Regions from separate parts of the Homo sapiens genome. Here region 1 is linked to region 2. A link means that fine-mapping ties the variant in region 2 to the expression of a gene that starts in the linked region. Tissue or cell type: subcutaneous fat. Region 2 holds a variant in brackets; the other region holds the start of a gene. All regions are shown on one strand. Distances are between the middles of the regions.

Evidence for each region. PIP is the estimated chance that this variant, and not a neighbour inherited with it, causes the effect.
Region 1: it holds the start of CAPN12, and the variant in region 2 is fine-mapped to the expression of CAPN12 in subcutaneous fat (GTEx, PIP 0.94).

Annotation. Positions count from the first base shown.
Region 1 is chr19:38,741,067-38,749,156 of GRCh38, forward strand. CAPN12 (calpain 12) reads right to left here and starts at 3,408. Exons shown (of 21, transcript NM_144691.4): 1 at 2,863-3,408; 2 at 1,967-2,036; 3 at 1,344-1,462; 4 at 711-844. The coding sequence starts at 3,099.
Region 2 is chr19:38,621,372-38,629,472 of GRCh38, forward strand. It overlaps EIF3K (eukaryotic translation initiation factor 3 subunit K), which reads left to right. Exons shown (of 8, transcript NM_013234.4): 3 at 2,706-2,826; 4 at 4,657-4,731. Among named protein-coding and RNA genes, the nearest start is that of EIF3K, 6.2 kb to the left of the region's middle. RefSeq lists enhancers at 849-1,709, 2,356-2,857. The variant A/G (reference allele first, on the strand shown) is at 4,950.

The sequences.
Region 1 (8,090 bases), 120 kb after region 2:
CAGGGTGACCCCCAATATTTTGGGGGTGCTTTAGATTTCTCAATGGACCAGGAGAGACAATCTAAGATATACAGCTCACCCGAGGGGATAAATCCCAGATTTGGTGAATCCAGGGCCTGATATATGAGATTTCAGGATCCTTAAGAATTATGAGTGACTGGGGGTCTCCAGGAATGTTTTGTGTGAAATATTGATGGAGAGAGGGGTTTAAGATTTGAAGGTACAGCTGAGCACAGTGGCTCACACCTGTAATCCCAGTACTTTGGGAGGCCAAGGAAGGTGGATCACCTGAGATCAGGAGTTGGAGACCAGCCTGACCAACATGGTGAAACCCCATCTCTACTAAAAATATAAAAATTAGCCAGGCATGGTGGTGCGCTCCTGTAATCCCAGCTAGTCGGGAGGCTGAGACAGGAGAATCGCTGGAACCTGGGAGGCAGAGGTTGCAGTGAGCCAAGATCGCGCTACTGCACTCCAGCCTGGGCGACAGAGTGAGTGAGACTCCGTCTCAAAAAAAAAGAAAAAAAAAAAAAACATGAAGTTGCTCAGGTGATGTTGTGATATGAGGGTTCTGGCGGTTGTCACTTGGTTTGGGATTCTTGGTGGGGTGTTTGGAGGATTGCAGAGCTTGGGGGACTCTGGGTCCCCCTGTGGCTTGATGCCTGCTGTGGGGACTTAGGGCTGCAGCTGGTTGGAACTGGGGTCCTCACTTGGCGTAGGCCTTCTCCAGGAGTGGGGCCCAGAACTCATTCCGCTGTTCCGAGCGCACGAACATCAGCTTCCCCTCACGCACGGGCAGCCTGTCATCCACCACGACGTCCATCCAGCGGCCAAACTGCCAGAGCTGGTGGGAGAAGATGCAGGGCCGGACTCGGCTTCCAACCTCCAACCCTGCCTGGGCCCTGCCTCTGCTGTGCCAGTCCCAGAGTCAGGAATTACAGCCCCAAGTCAACGTTAACTATGAAATCCATATGGCTGGCCGGGTGCGGTGGCTCACATCTGTAATCCCAGCACTTTGGGAGGCCGAGGCGGATGGATCACGAGGTCAGGAATTCGAGACCAGCCTGGCTAAGATGGTGAAATACCATCTCTACTAAAAATAAGAAAAAATTAGCTGGGCATGATGGCGGGTGCCTGTAATCCCAGCTACTCAGGAGGCTGAGGCAGAGAATTGCTTGAACCTGGGGGCGGGGCGAAGGTTGCAGTGAGCCGAGATTGTGCCACTGCACTCCAGCCTGGATGACAGAGTGAGATTCCATCTCAAAAAAAAAAAAAAAGAAAAATCCATATCACCAAGTCACCATGGGGGAAACGGAGGCATGGGCAGAGGAACTGAGCTGTACCTGGAAGTGGAAGACGCCTGCGTAGCCATGCTGGAAATCCTGTCCAGGAGGGACCACCCGGCGCAGGAGCCGGGGATACAGAGTAAGGGAGGCGGCAGCTGCAAGGAACCAGCAGTTACCTGGGAGGAGAGGCCAGGATTAGGTGAGGATGGAAGGAGGGAGGCCTGGTGCGGTGGCTCATGCCTCTAATCCCAGCACTTTGGGAGGCCAAGGCAGAAAGATCACGTGAGCCTAGGAGTTCAAGACCAGCCTGGCCAACATGGCAAGACTCCACTACAAGAAAATTTAAAAATTAGCTGGGCATGGTGGCATGCACCTGTAGTCCCAGCTACTTGGGAGGCTGAGGCAGGAAGATTGCTTGAGTCCAGGAGGTTAAGGCTGCAGTGAGCTATGATGGTGCCACTGTATTCCAGAATGGGTGACAGAGTGAGACCCCATCTCAAAAAAAAAAAAAAAAAAAAAAGGAAGGAAGGAAGGAGGGAGGAGGGAGAGAGAGGCCTAGGGAGAGAAGAGACTGAGGAGGGATCCAGGGGCCGGGAGTGGGTGGACAAAGGGATGGAGCTGTCAGGATCTCAGCTGAAACTAGCTGGATCTGAGGACTCCAGGTGGGTTCAGGGTCTCACCCAGGCTCCCCTGACACACGTCTGTGCGGCTCATGTCTTCACAGATGAACTTCGGCTCAGCACAGAACTCCTGTGGGTGGTGGGGGATTCCAGGCCTCAGCCTGAGAAAGCGAGGAAAGGTCTCATCCAGAGGAGTGAGGGCCTCCAAGCCCATGAAAGGCCTGGAAGCCTGTGGGCAGGAGCATGGCTTCCCTGGGTCTCCAGAAGTTGTGCTGAGCCAGTCCCATGGTAGCCCCCTCCTCCCTCAGACCCGGGAGTCCAGGCCCAGCCCCTCCTCCCTCAGACCCAGGAGTCCATGTCCCGAGCCCCTCCTCCCTCAGACCCAGGAGTCCAGGCCCAGCCCCTCCTCCCTCAGACCCAGGAGTCCAGGTCCCGAGCCCCTCCTCCCTCAGACCCAGGAGTCCAGGCCCAGCCCCTCCTCCCTCAGACCCAGGAGTCCAGGTCCCGAGCCCCTCCTCCCTCAGACCCAAGAATCCAGGTCCCCAGCCCCTCCTCCCTCAGACCCAGGAGTCCAGGTCCAGCCCCTCCTCCCTCAGACCCCGGAGTCCAGGTCCCCAGCCCCCTCTTCCCTCAGACCCAGGTGTCCAGGCCTTGGCCTCTCCTCCCTCAGATCCAGAAGTCCAGGTCCAAGCCCCCTCCTCCCTCAGACCCAGGAGTCCAGGTCCCCAGCCCCTCCTCCCTCAGACCCAAGAGTCCAGGCCCAGCCCTTCCTCCCTCAGACCCAGGAGTCCAGGCCCAGCCCCTCCTCCCTCAGACCTAAGAGTCCAGGTCTCGAGCCCCTCCTCCCTCAGACCAGGGAGTCCAGGCCCCCAGCCTTCCTTCCTCAGACCCAGGAGTCCATGCCTCCAGCCCCTCCTCCCTCAGACCCCAGAGCCCAGACCCCAGCCACACTTTACATGGGGCCTCATCCATTTCACGCCTTTGGCCTTCTCCGAGTCCGGCCCCAGCTGGTCATAGCCAAGGGCATCAGGGCCAGCAGGGAAGTAAGGGTCGCGGAACAGGATCCCCGAATCCAGGCAGGCTGCCCGAATTGCCTCATAGCTCTGGCCCCGAAAAAGCTGCAGGCGCCCGGCTCCGACCCCAGCCTCCTCATCCACGAGCTGGATGGTGACCCTCCCACTGCTGGATGCCATCTGGACACTGGCCTCACAAGCCGGCACCAGGCCCTTTAACCTCCTGAGTCACGGGGGCGGGGCCTCTCTTCCATTGGAGCCCCAGTGGGGTCTTTAGGCAATGAGGAGCCTTCCCTCGTTAATATTAATTGATGGTTTGGGGTGCTGGGGAGCAGGGACGCCTCTTCAGTAGCTTTCTTCCCAGGGCGTGGGGCCTTCAGTTGTGGCCAAGGTAGCAGCTTAATGGGCTTGGCCAGCAGCAGGAGAGAAGGCGGGCAGAGCTGAGGGAGGACCGGCTGCCGCTGTCAGAGCACCAAGAAGGAGGTCAGTGTGGGGGTGAGCTTCTGCCTACTTATGCCTGTGGGGCTGGGGAAGGAGGCGGGTTTACCTCGGTGTCTCTATCTCTCAGACTGCCTCTCTCCCCCTCCCTCTGACAGTTTCTCTCTCCCCGCCTTCATGTTTCTTCTCCATCAGTTTCTGGAGTGCAGTGGCACGATCTCAGCTCACTGCAACCTCCGCCTTCTAGGTTCAAGTGATTCTCCTGCCTCAGCCTCCCAAGTAGCTGGGATTACAGGCTCGTGTCACCATGCCCAGCTAATTTTTGTATTTTTTGTTAGAGAAGGGATTTTACCATGTTGACCAGGCTGGTCTTGAACTCCTGGCCTCAAGCAATCCGCCCACCTTGGCCTCCCAAAGTGCTGGGATTACAGACGTGAGCCACTGTGCCTGGTCAGGTTTTGTTAATTAAAAAAAATTTTTTTTAAAGTAGAGACAGAGGGGTGGCGGGGGGCGGTCCCATATGTTCCCCAGGCTGGTCTTGAACTGCTGGCCTCAAGTGATCCTCCTGCTTCAGCAGCCTCCCAGAGAGCTGGGATTACAGATGTGAGCTACTGTGCCTGGCCCTTTCTTGTTTTTTGTTTCTGGCAATATTTGTGTCTCTGTATTTCCCCAACTCCACCCCTCTCCCCACCCCACCCTCTTTTTTTTTTTTTTTTTTTTTTTGTAGAGATGGGGCGGGGATCTCACTTTGTTGCCCAGACTGGTCTCGAACTCCTGGGCTCAAGTGATCCTCCCCGCTTGGCCTCCCAAAGTGTTGGGATTACAGGCGTGAATCACTATGCCTGTCCCCTCTCTCTTTGTGTCTCTTTCAGCGTGTGTCTGTTCCTCTCTGTACCTGTCAGACCCAGGAGTCCAGGCCCCCAGCCCCTCCTCCTTCAGACCCTGTCAGTGTACCTTGTGTCTGCCTCCCTGTCTCTTCCTCTCCATCTTTCTGTCTGTCCCTGTAACCCATATGTGGCTCCTCCATCATCCACCGAGGGACCCTGAGCTCCCCTCCGCTCACGCCCCCTAAGCCCTCAGGATGCGCCTCCTCCCCTCCCGGACAAGGTAGACTCAGCCTGCTTGCCCAGGGAGGCTGACCCTGGAGGGATGGCTCTGTACCTCTCCTGTGCTGGGAGCCATCTGGTGACCATGATGCCCTGCCCTGGCCCACGCCACTCAGAGTCTGGATGGAGCAGTATTTCCCCCAAAGGACTCTGGAGCCATTGGAGGAAATGGGAGAAACAGGTACGGAGATGCCAGAGCCTCAGCAGTGCTGGTCCCAGCAGACCTTCCACCCTCGTTGAGGGTGTCTGCTGCCCTCCCAGAGCCTTGTCACCTCCACGCCACTCAGATGTCCCTCAAGCCTTTTGGCCTTCTTCCCTCCAAGTGGACCCACAAATATTGTCCAAGCCACCCACGTACACGGCTACCAAAAGTGGGTTACAAAACAGGCTTTCTGGCTGGGCGTGGTGGCTCATGCCTGTAATCCCAGCACTTTGGGAGGCCGAGGCAGGCAGATCACCTGAGGTCAGGAGTTCGAGACCAGCCAGGCCAATGTAGTGAAACTCCGTCTCTACTAAAATACAAAAATTAGCCGGACATAGTTGCGGGCACCTGTAATCCCAGCTACTCAGAAGGCTGAGGCAGGAGAACCGCTTGAATCTGGGAGGCGGAGGTTGCAGTGAGCCGAGATTGTGCCACTGCACTCCAGCCTGGGCAACAGGGCAAGACTGCATCTCAAAAAACCCCCCAAAACAGGGCCGGGCATGGTGGCTCATGCCCGTAATCCCAGCACTTTGGGAGGCTGAGGTGGGCAGAACACTTGAGGCCAGGAGTTCAAGACCAGCCTGGCCAACATGGTGAAACACCATCTCTATTAAAAATACAAAAATTAGGCTGGACGCGGTAGTTTACTACGCCTGTAATCCCAGCACTTTGGGAGGCCGAGACGGGCGGGTCAGGAGTTCCAGACCAGCCTGGCCAACATGGTGAAACCCCATCTCTACTAAAAAATACAAAAAAATTAGCTGGGTGTGGTGGCACGCACCTGTAATCCCAGCTACTCAGGAGGCTGAGGTAGGAGAATCGCTTGAACCCGAGAGGTGGAGGTTTCAGTGAGCCAAGACTGCACCACTGCACTCCAGCCTCGGCAAGAGAGCAAAACTCCATCTCAAAAAAAAAAAAAAAAAGGCCGGGCACGGTGGCTCAAGCCTGTAATCCCAGCAGCACTTTGGGAGGCCAAAGCAGGCAGATCACGAGGTCAGGAGATCAAGACCATCCTGGCTAACACGGTGAAACCCCATCTCTACTACAAAAAATACAAAAAATTAGCCAGGCATGGTGGCGGCCACCTGTAGTCCCAGCTACTCGGGAGGCTGAGGCAGGAGAATGACGTGGACCCAGGAGGCGAAGCTTGCAGTGAGCCGCCACTGCACTCCAGCCTGGTTGACAGAGCAAGACTCTGTCTCAAAAAAAAAAAAAAAAAAAAAAATTAGCTGGGCATGGTGGTACACACCTGTAATCCCAGCTACTCAGGAGGGTGAGGCAGGAGAATCGCTTGAACCTGGGAGGCGGAGGTTGCAGTGAGCCAAGATCACGCCACTGCACTCCAGCCTGGGTGAGAGAGTGAGACTCCATCTCAAAAAAAAAAAAAAAAAAGTTTTCTTCGTGTAGGATTGCCAAGCCCACCCCAGCCCCACGGGAGTCATATGGGAGTGCTTCCAGCCTGCCGGGATTAGGAGCCACAGCACCTGGGGTCCAATCCCAGCTCTGCCACCTACACCTGTGTGTCTTTGGGCACATCACTTAACTTCTCTGTGCTTCAGTTTCCTCATCTCTGCAATGCGGATGATGATAGGGCGTACCTCGGAGGGTTGCTGTGGGAAGCGAATGAGTTCGTACGTGGGATGAGTTCAGAGAAGTGCCTGACACAGAGTCGCTGCTCACTGCACGAGGCATTGACCATGCCTTGGCGTTCAAGAGTGTCTGCTGCCCTCCCAGAGCCTTGTCACCTCCATGCCACTCAGATGTCCCTCAAGCCTTCTGGCCTCCTTCCCTCCAAGTGGACCCACAGATATTGTCCAAGCTGCCTACGTACATGGCTACCAAAAGTGGGTTACAAAACGAGCTTTCTGGCTGGGCGTGGTGGGTCACGCCTGTAATCCCAGCACTTTGGGAGGCCGAGGTGGGCGGCCTCGGCCATCCACAGTCAACCTGTCTCCTTGGATCTGGGCTGCTGTTTCTTTCACTTGTTTGTTGGTTTATTTTTTGGGACAGTCTCGCCTCGTCACCCAGGCTGGAGTGCAGTGGCGTGATCTTGGCTCACTACAACCTCCGCCTCCCAGGTTCAAGTGATTCTCCTGCCTCAGCCTCCCGAGTAGCTAGAATTACAGGCATGTGCCACCACGGCTGGCTAATTTTTGTATTTTTAGTAGAGACAGGGTTTCACCATATTGGTCAGGCTGGTCTTGAAAGCCTCACTTCAGGTGATCCACCCGCCTTGGCCTCCAAAAGTGCTGGGATTACAGACAGGAGCCACCGCGCCATGTCTTACTGTTTCTTTTTTTGTATTGTTTTGTTTTGTTTCTGAGACAGGGTCTGACTCTGTTGCCCAGGCTGGAGTGCAGTGGCACAATCTTGGCTCACTGCAGCCTTGACCTCCCGGGCTCAAGCAATCCTCCTGCCTCAGCTTCCTGAGTAGCTGGGACCACAGGCTTGTGCCACCATACCCAGCAAATTTTTAGACTTTTTGGTGGAATGGAGTCTCACTTTGTTGCCAGGGCTGGTCTTGAATCCCTGAGCTCAAGCAAACTTCCCATGTCAGCTTCCCAAAGTGCTAGGATTATAGGCCTGACCCACTGCACCTGGCCAGATGTACAACTTTCAAACCACTGAAGTAGCTTAAAATGAAAGGAAAAGAAAATGTAATCTATTTGGCAATGGTCGAAAAGCAAAGGAAAATGCAGCGAATCATAGAAAATAAAAGCAAAAAGCATCACACAATGACCTAAATAAAACCAAGCATATCAGTTATAACAACATTATGCAAATGTGTGAAACGTACTTGGGAACATCAACAAACAAAATTCAACTGTTTAGCTTTCAAAACACTTTCCAAAGATAACACCACCAAGTTTTAAAATAAAAGGATTAGAAATAGCTATCAGTCAAAAGCAGATACACAAAAATCAGGGCAAATCTGATATTAGAGAAAACCGGATTTAAAGCAGATAGCATTACTTTGGACAAAAGGAGTTATTTTCTATTGATAAAGTGTATGATCCAGAATGAAAAGTGATTGGATGGGTGCAGTGGCTCATGCCTGCAATCCCAGCACTTTGGAAGGCTGAGGCAGGTGGATCACTTGAGGTCGGCAGTTTGAGACCAGCCTGGCCGACATGGTGAAACCCCGTCTCTATTAAAAATACAAAAATTAGCTGGGCATAGTGGTGCATGCCTGTAATCTCAGCTACTCGGGAGGCTAAGGCTCAAGAATCACTTGAACCCAGGAGGTGGAGGTTGCAGTGAGCCCAGATTGTGCCAGTGCACTCCAGCCTGGGTGACAGGACAAGACTCTGTCTAAAAAAAAAAAAAAAAAGGCTGGGAGCGATGGCTCACGCCTGTAATCTCAGCAGTTTGGGAGGCCCAGGCAGACGGATTACTCAAGGTCAGGAGTTCAAAACTAGCCTGGC
Region 2 (8,101 bases):
CACTGCACTCCAGCTTGGGCGACAGAGTGAGACCCTGTCTCAAAAATAAATAAAGGTTAATTACAGAACACATGTACAGGCTAATACATTAAGCAAACATGTAGTTTAACAAATCATTATAAATGAAAGCCTACATAATCACCATTTATGTTGCAAAGTTATTGCTAGCACCACAGGCTCTTTGCCCCCTATGCTCTATGCCAACCAATTCCCCTGCTCCCCCATGCTCTCATGGCCTGGCTTTATGTGATGGTTTACTATGCATGCATACATCTGGCTCAGCTCAGCTCAGGTTTCCCTGCTTTGAACTTGATACAGATGGAGTGCATACAGCACAAACTCTTCTGCATTTGCCATTTGCTACTCAGCACTGGGTTTGTGAGATCCATCCAGTGTTTTTTGTTTTTTTGTTTTGTTTTTGATATGGCTGCAGTTTGTTGTCATGGATGTATAGCTCTCCACTGTGTCACTTGTGTGGCTGTCCTAATGATCTCTTCTGGCTCTTGATGGACATTGTGGGTTCTTCGTGCCCTTTTTTTTTTTTTTTTTTTTTTGGAGACAGGATCTTCTGTTGCCCAGGCTGGAGTACAGTGGCACAGTCATGGCTCACTGCATCCTTAGCCTTCTGGACTCAAGTGATTCTCCCGCCTCAGCCTCCTGAATAGCTGGGACTACAGGCATGCACCACCATGCCCAGCTAATTTTACTTGGGTGCTTTCTTTCTTTCCTTTTTTTTTTTTTTTTGAGACAGGGTCTCACCTTCTTGCCCAGGCTAGAGTGCCTTGGCGTGATCTCATGATCTCAACTCAGTGCATCCTTTGCCTCCCAGGTTCATGTAATCCTCCTGCCTCGGCCTCCTAAGTAGCTGTACGTATCGGGGGGCCTGCCCCGATAATCACGTAGGTTCTTTTCTATATTCCTAAGCATTGGCTGGCTTGAGAAATAGAAGGACAGAGTACAAAAGAGAGAAATTTTAAAGCTGGGCGTCCGGGGGAGACATCACACATTGGTAGGATCCGTGATGCCTCACAAGCCACAAAAACCAGCAAGTTTTTATTAGGGATTTTCAAAAGGGGAGGGAGTGTGCGAATAGGTGTGGGCGACAGACATCAAGTACTTAACAGGGTAATAGAATATCACAAGGCAAGTGGAGGCAGGGCGAGATCACAGGACCACAGGATCAAAGCGAAATTAAAATTGCTAATGAAGTTTTGGGCACCACTGTCATTGATAACATCTTATCAGGAGACAGGGTTTTGAGATCAACCGGTCTGACCAAAATTTATTAGGCGGGAATTTCCTCTTCCTAATAAGCCTGGGAACGCTATGGGAGACGAGTTTATTTCACCTCTGCAATCTCGACTATAAGAGACAGGTACGCCCCGGGGGGCCCGTTCAGAGACCTACCCCTAGGTGCGCATTCTCTTTCTCAGGGACGTTCCATGCTGAGAAAAAGAATTCAGCGATATTTCTCCCATTTGCTTTTGAAAGAAGAGAAATATGGCTCTGTTCTGCCCGGCTCACCGGCAGTCAGAGTTTAAGGTTCTCTCTCTCATTCCCGGAACAATTGCTGTTATCCTGTTCTTTTTCCAGGGTGCCCACATTTCATATTGCTCAAACACACATGTTGTGCAATTTTTGTAGTTAACGCAATTATTACAGGGTCCTGGAACGATATACATCCTCCTCAACTGACAGGATTAAGAGATTAAAGTAAAGACAGGCATAGGAAATCACAAGGGTATTGATTGGGGAAGTGATAAGTGTCCATGAAATCTTTACAATTTATGTTTAGAGATTGCAGTAAAGACAGGCATAAGAAATTACAAAAGTATTAATTTGGGGAACTAATAAATGTCCATAAAATCTTCACAATCCACGTTCTTCTGTCATGGCTTCAGCCGGTCCCTCCGTTTGGGGTCCCTGACTTCCCGCAACAGGTACGCACCACCATACCCAGCTAATTTTTGTATTTTTAGTAGAGACAGGGTTTTGCCATGTTAGCCAGGCTGGTCTCGAACTCCTGACCTCAGGTGATCCACCCGCCTTGGCCTCCCAAAGTGCTGGGATTACAGGCGTGAGCCACTGCACCCAGCCTAATTTTTGTATTTTTAGTAGAGACGGGGCTTTGTCATGTTGGCCAGGCTGGTCTCGAACTCCTGATCTCAGGTGATCCGCCCATCTCGGCCTCCCAAAGTGCTGGGATTACAGGCTTGAGCCACCCACCTACCCACCCCCACCGCCACCTTCTGTTGTCCTCTTTTGCAAGGGAGGAAACCGTCAGCCCCTCAGTTTCCTTTCTCTGCTCCTCAGCCTTTCAGTGCCTCTTAATCTCTCTCTTCTCTGCTCCTCGTGTCATAAATAAGCAGTCCAAGGTCACTCAGCAGGGAAGTTTAAACCGAGGCAGTCTGGCTCTGGTTCCTTAGCCACTACTCCAGACCACTGCTGCTGTTCTCATTTGTTTATAAATCACTTAGCAGTGTCTGCCCCATTGGGTAGTTGTGAGCATTAACTGTCCCTGTTCACAGAGGAGAAAGGTAGGCTCAGGGAGGTGAAGGTTACACAGCTGGGAAGCACTGGGACTGGGATTGGAACCCAGGCATGTCCAATTCCCAAACTCCAGAATAAAGCAGCTGCCTGGCACCTGGTGAGGATTGGGGACTTGGAGGTGCCACTGTGGCCACGTCTCTTGTTCTTTTTCTTAGGTACCAGTTCAACCCAGCCTTCTTTCAGACCACGGTCACCGCCCAGATCCTGCTGAAGGCCCTCACCAACTTGCCGCACACAGACTTCACCCTGTGCAAGTGCATGATCGACCAGGCACATGTATCCTTCCAGCACTGGGGCCGGGGGGTGTGTGGGAAGGGGTCAGAGTCAAGGTGCATGAATTCCCAGGGAGATGGTCTGTGGGTGTATCCACAAACAACAAGTGCCTGCTCTGGTCCAGCGTGGCAAGGTGCTGGACAGTGCTGGGACACTGGTGACTGAGACAGTCCTGGGCCCTGTCTTCACAAAGTTGTCGCAGTCCAGTGAAGAGTCAGTGATAGACTGGAGTGGTCAGGGTTGGGTTACAAGAGTCACAGCAGCCGGGCACAATGACTCAGGCCTCTAATCCCGGCACTTTGAGAGGTCAAGGTGGGTGGATCACCTGAGGTCAGGAGTTCGAGACCAGCCTGGCCAACATGGCGAAACCCCATCTCTATTAAAATACAAAAAATTAGCCAGGCACAGTGGCACACACCTATAGTCCCAGTTACTCAGGAGGCTGAGGCAGGAGGATCACTTGAAGCTGGGAGATGGAGGTTGCAGTGAGCCGAGATTGCGCCACTGCACTCCACCCTGGGTGACACAGTGAGACTCTGTCTCAAAAAAAAAAAGAAGAGCCAGAGTAGGCACCTGACCATTTGGGTGGGGGAATATGTGGACATGAACACAGCCATCTGTATTTACATTCTATAGAACAATGTCTGGAAAGGTGGAAAGGTACCCAAGAATTGGAAATGACTGTTACCTCCCAGGAAGGATGGCTGTGAGACAGGGAAGGGAAGACCTATTTTGCCACTGTTCACTCTTCTGTATTTTTAACTAGAAACTATAAACCAGGGCCTCCTGGAGGAGGGAACATCTAAAACATAACGAGTTAGGTGGAGGGGTAGGCAAAGGTGATCCAGGCAGAGAGGACACTCATGGGCTAAAGGAAGCAGAGCTCGGTGCTGTCTTTCAGGAATGGTAGAGGAAGCCTGACATAGGAATGATTTAAGGTGGGTTTTTTTTTGTTGTTGTTTTATTTTATTTATTTTATTTTTTTTTTGAGACGGAGCCTTGCTCTGTCACCCAGTCTGGAGTGCAGTGGCGTGATCTCGGCTTCCTGCAACTTCCACCTCCCAGGTTCAAGCTATTCTGTCTCAGCCTCCTGAGCAGCTGGGACCACAGGTGCATGCATGCTACCACGCCCAGCTAATTTTTGTATTTTTAGTAGAGACGGGGTTTTGCTATGTTGGCCAGGCTGCTCTCGAACTCCTGACCTCAGGTGATCCACCCGCCTCAGCCTCCCAAAGTGATAGGATTACAGATGTGAGCCACCGTGCCCAGCCTATAGGTTTTATTTTATTAGTAATAATAGTAGGGTTTTTTTGTTAATATTTTCTTTTTTTTTGAGATGGAGTCTTGCTCTGTCATCCAGGCTGGCGTGCAAAGGCGTGATCTTGGCTCACTACAACCTCCTCCTCCCGGGTTCAAGTGATTCTCCTGCCTCAGCCTCCCAAGTAGCTGGGACTATAGGCACGTGCCACCACACCCAGCTGCTTTTCGTATGTTTAGTAGAGATGGGGTTTCGCTATGTTGGCCAGGCTGGTGTCGAACTCCTGACCTCAGGTGATCCACCCGCCTTGGCCTCCCAAAGTGCCAGGATTACAGGCGTGAGCCACCAGGACTGGCATGTCATTTCTCATCTTTTGCCATTACAAACAGTCCTGCAGCCAACATCCTTTCTCCTGCATACACCTGCAGGAGAAATAAGCTGGCTTCCTTTTCCAGCTGTTTTTCTGAGCTGAAGCTTTGGAAGAAAGCAGCCAGAAGAAGGTAGGTGGGGAGGGGTGATCTGGGGTCCAACCTTACGCTCCGAGGCCAGTTTTCCTTAATGCTTCCTCCTCCCAGCAAGAAGAACGGCCAATCCGACAGATTTTGTACCTCGGGGACCTGCTGGAGACCTGCCATTTCCAGGCCTTCTGGGTAACTTCCCTGGGGTCCAGGGGCAGGGGAGATGGCAGGGCCATGTGGAGCTGAGTGCTAAAAGTAACAACGGTGCACACTGACTGGCTTCCTGCTTTGGCGGTGGGCCCAGTGCTCTGCATGTGTGTGTTTGTGGAATTATCATCCTCTCGCGGAGCAGGTACTCACAGGTCATCCCCGTGCCCACAGGCTGAGGCCGACCCTTTCCCCTTTCTCCC[A/G]TCTTTCCACTGAGCCCTCTAGTACACACCGTTGATCAGAAGTCCTCCAGTGGCTGGGTGTAGTGACTCACCCCCGTGATTCCAGTACTTGTGGAGGCCAAGGTGGGAGGATTGCTTGAGGCCAGGAGTTCCAGACCAGCCTGAGCAACATAGTGAAACTTCATCTCTACAAAATTGAAAATTAATTGGGTGTGGTGGCATGTGCCTGTACTCCCAGCTACCCAGGAGGCTAAGGTGGGAGGATCGCTTGAGGCTGCGAGTGAGCCGTGATCACACCACTGCACTCCAGCCTGGGCAACAGAGCAAGACCCTGTCTCAAGAAAGAGAAATTCTCCGTCTCTTCTACCTGTCTGACATGCTCTGCCCTTCTTGCTCTAACTGGAACCTGGCCCCCCACTTCTGCAGCCCCCTAAGTGGGAGGCTAGATCACCTCCTGGCTCCTATCTCTTCTGATACCCTCAGTCTTTTTTGTTGTTTTTTGTTTGTTTGTTTTTTGGTTTTTTTGAGATGGAGTCTCACGCCATTGCCTAGGCTGTAGTACAGTGGCACGATCTTGGCTCACTGCAACCTCTGCTTCCCGGGTTCAAGTGATTCTCCTGTCTCCCGAGTAGCTAGTACTACAGGCACACGCCATCATGCCCAACTAAATTTTATATGTATTTTTTATTTTATTTTGTTTTATTTTTGAGACAGAGTCTCAGTCTTGCCCAGGCTGGAGTGCAGTGGCGCGATCTTGGCTTACTGCAACTGCCGCCTCCCGAGTTCAACTGATTCTCGTGCCTCAGCCTCCTAAGTGGCTGGGGTTACAGGCATGTGCCATCACGCTGGCTAATTTTTGTATTTTTAGTAGAGACGGGGTTTTGCCATGTTGTCCAGGCTGGTCTTGAATTCCTGACCTCAGGTGATCTGCCTGCCTCAGCCTCCCAAAGTGCTGGGATTATAGGCGTGAACCACCACGCCGGGCCAGAAACCCCCAGTTTTGAAGTGTGTGTGTCGTCACTTCCTGCCCGGTATCAGTCCCTCTGGTGACTGCTCTTTGTTTCTTGAAGAATTCAGCCCCTGGCTGGCCACGGTGGCTCAACGCCTGTAATCCCAGCACTTTGGGAGGCCGAGGCAGGTGGATCACCTGAGGTCGGGAGTTCGAGACCAGCCTGACCAACGTGGAGAAATACTGTCTTAACTAAAAATACAAAATTAGCTGGGTGAGGTGGCACATGCCTGTAATCCTAGCTGCTCGGGAGGCTGAGGCAGGAGAATCACTTGAACCCAGTGGGTTCAACCTCACCCAGAGGTTATGGTGAGCTGAGATCATGCCGTTGCACTCCAGCCTGGGTGACAGAGTGAGACTCCGTCTCAAAAAAAAAAAAAATTCAGCTCCTTCTCACTGGCGCTCTCTACCACTCCTGCCCTAATTCTTAGACGCTTAGAAAGTAACACAGAGGATCCTTTGACCACCCAGACCTCTGGGTCCCTTGCTCTCTTGGCCAGCTATCTTGTGCTACACCTGACCTCAGCCCTTCTCTTCCAATCATACCCCAGGCCAGTTCTCTGCACATTAGACCTCTGAGGCATTTATTTTCTTTCCTTTTTTTTTTTTTGTTTGAGACCATGTCTCGCTGTGTCACCCAGGCTGGAATGCAGTGGCACAATCTCAACTCACTGCAACCTCTGCCTGCTGGGTTCAAGCAATTTTCCTGTCTCAGCCTCCCAGGTAGCTGGGACTACAGGCATGCACCACCCCGCCGGCTAATTTTTGTATTTTTAGTAGAGACGGGGTTTCACCATGTTGGCCAGGCTGGTCTCGAACTACTGACCTCAAGTGATCTGCCCGCCTTGGCCTTCCAAAGTGCTGGGACTACAGGTGTCAGCCACCACGCCCGGACCTCTGAGGCATTTTTAAAAATTAATACTGATACTTGGGTCCTCCCTCACAGAGTCTGATGTAATTGCTTCAGTGTAGCCTAGGCCTTGGGATTTTAAAAGGTTACCCTGGGTGATTTGGACATCTGGCCAATGTTGGGAGCCACTGCCGTCACCAATAATGGCTCCCCTCCTCCCTCTGTGAGTTTCCAGCATCTCCATTCTCTGACCGCTTCCTCCTAGCTTCTCAGCTCACCCCCACAGGGTCTCCATCCCCACATTCTTGGGCCTGACCATTAGCTCCAACCCTCTTTCTCTGCAGGCTTCTCTGTTCCGCTTCCTTCTCTTAAATCGCATGTGCTGGCTGGGCATGGTGGCTCACACCTGTAATCCCAGCACTTTGGGAGGCCGAGGTGGATGGATCGCCTGAGGTCAGGAGTTCGAGACCAGCCTGACCAACGTGGAGAAACCCCATCTCTACTAAAAATACAAAGTTGGCCGGGCGTGGTGGCGCATGCCTGTAATCCCAGCTACTCGGGAGGCTGAGGCAGGAGAATTGCTTGAACCTGGGAGGCGGAGATTGCGGTGAGCCGAGATCATGCCATTGCACTCCAGTCTGAAAAAGAGCGAAACTCCATCTCAAAAAAAAAAAAGAGAAAAAATGTCGCATGTGACTCCCCTGTCCCCAGCTGCAGCTACGGTCTTGCTTCCTTCCCCAACTCCTGGATGTTTCCTCATGCTTTATCTGTCTCCCTTTCTTCTCACCTCAACTTATGATCTGGCTTCTTGTCTCGGGAGAAAATGGAAGCAGCCACTGTAGAAATTGCACCTGTTCCTATCCCAGACCCTGACATTTTATGTGCAGCTGACTGCACACTTTTTTTTTTAATTCTTAAACATTTTATTTTTTATTCAAGTAAGAAATTATTGATTAGCTTCAGTTAATCCCACAAAGAAAATGATCAAATGCTTAAAATAATAGAGTTTACTAGTTCTACAACTGTTCTCACTAGCAAACTAGCAAATGAGATGTGTTGGAGATCTTAGACCTATTCCATGGAACAGATAGACAGGTTTTTTTTGTTTGTTTGTTTTGTTTTGTTTTGTTTTGTTTTGTTTTGTTTTGTTTTTTGAGACAGGGTCTCACTCTGTCGCCCAGGCCGCAGTGCAGTGATGCAAACACAGCTCACTGCAGCTTTGACCTCCCAGGCTCAAGTGATCCCCGCACTTCAGCCTCCTGAGTAGCTGGGACTAACAGGCCCACGCCAACACGCCTGGCTAATTTTTCTATT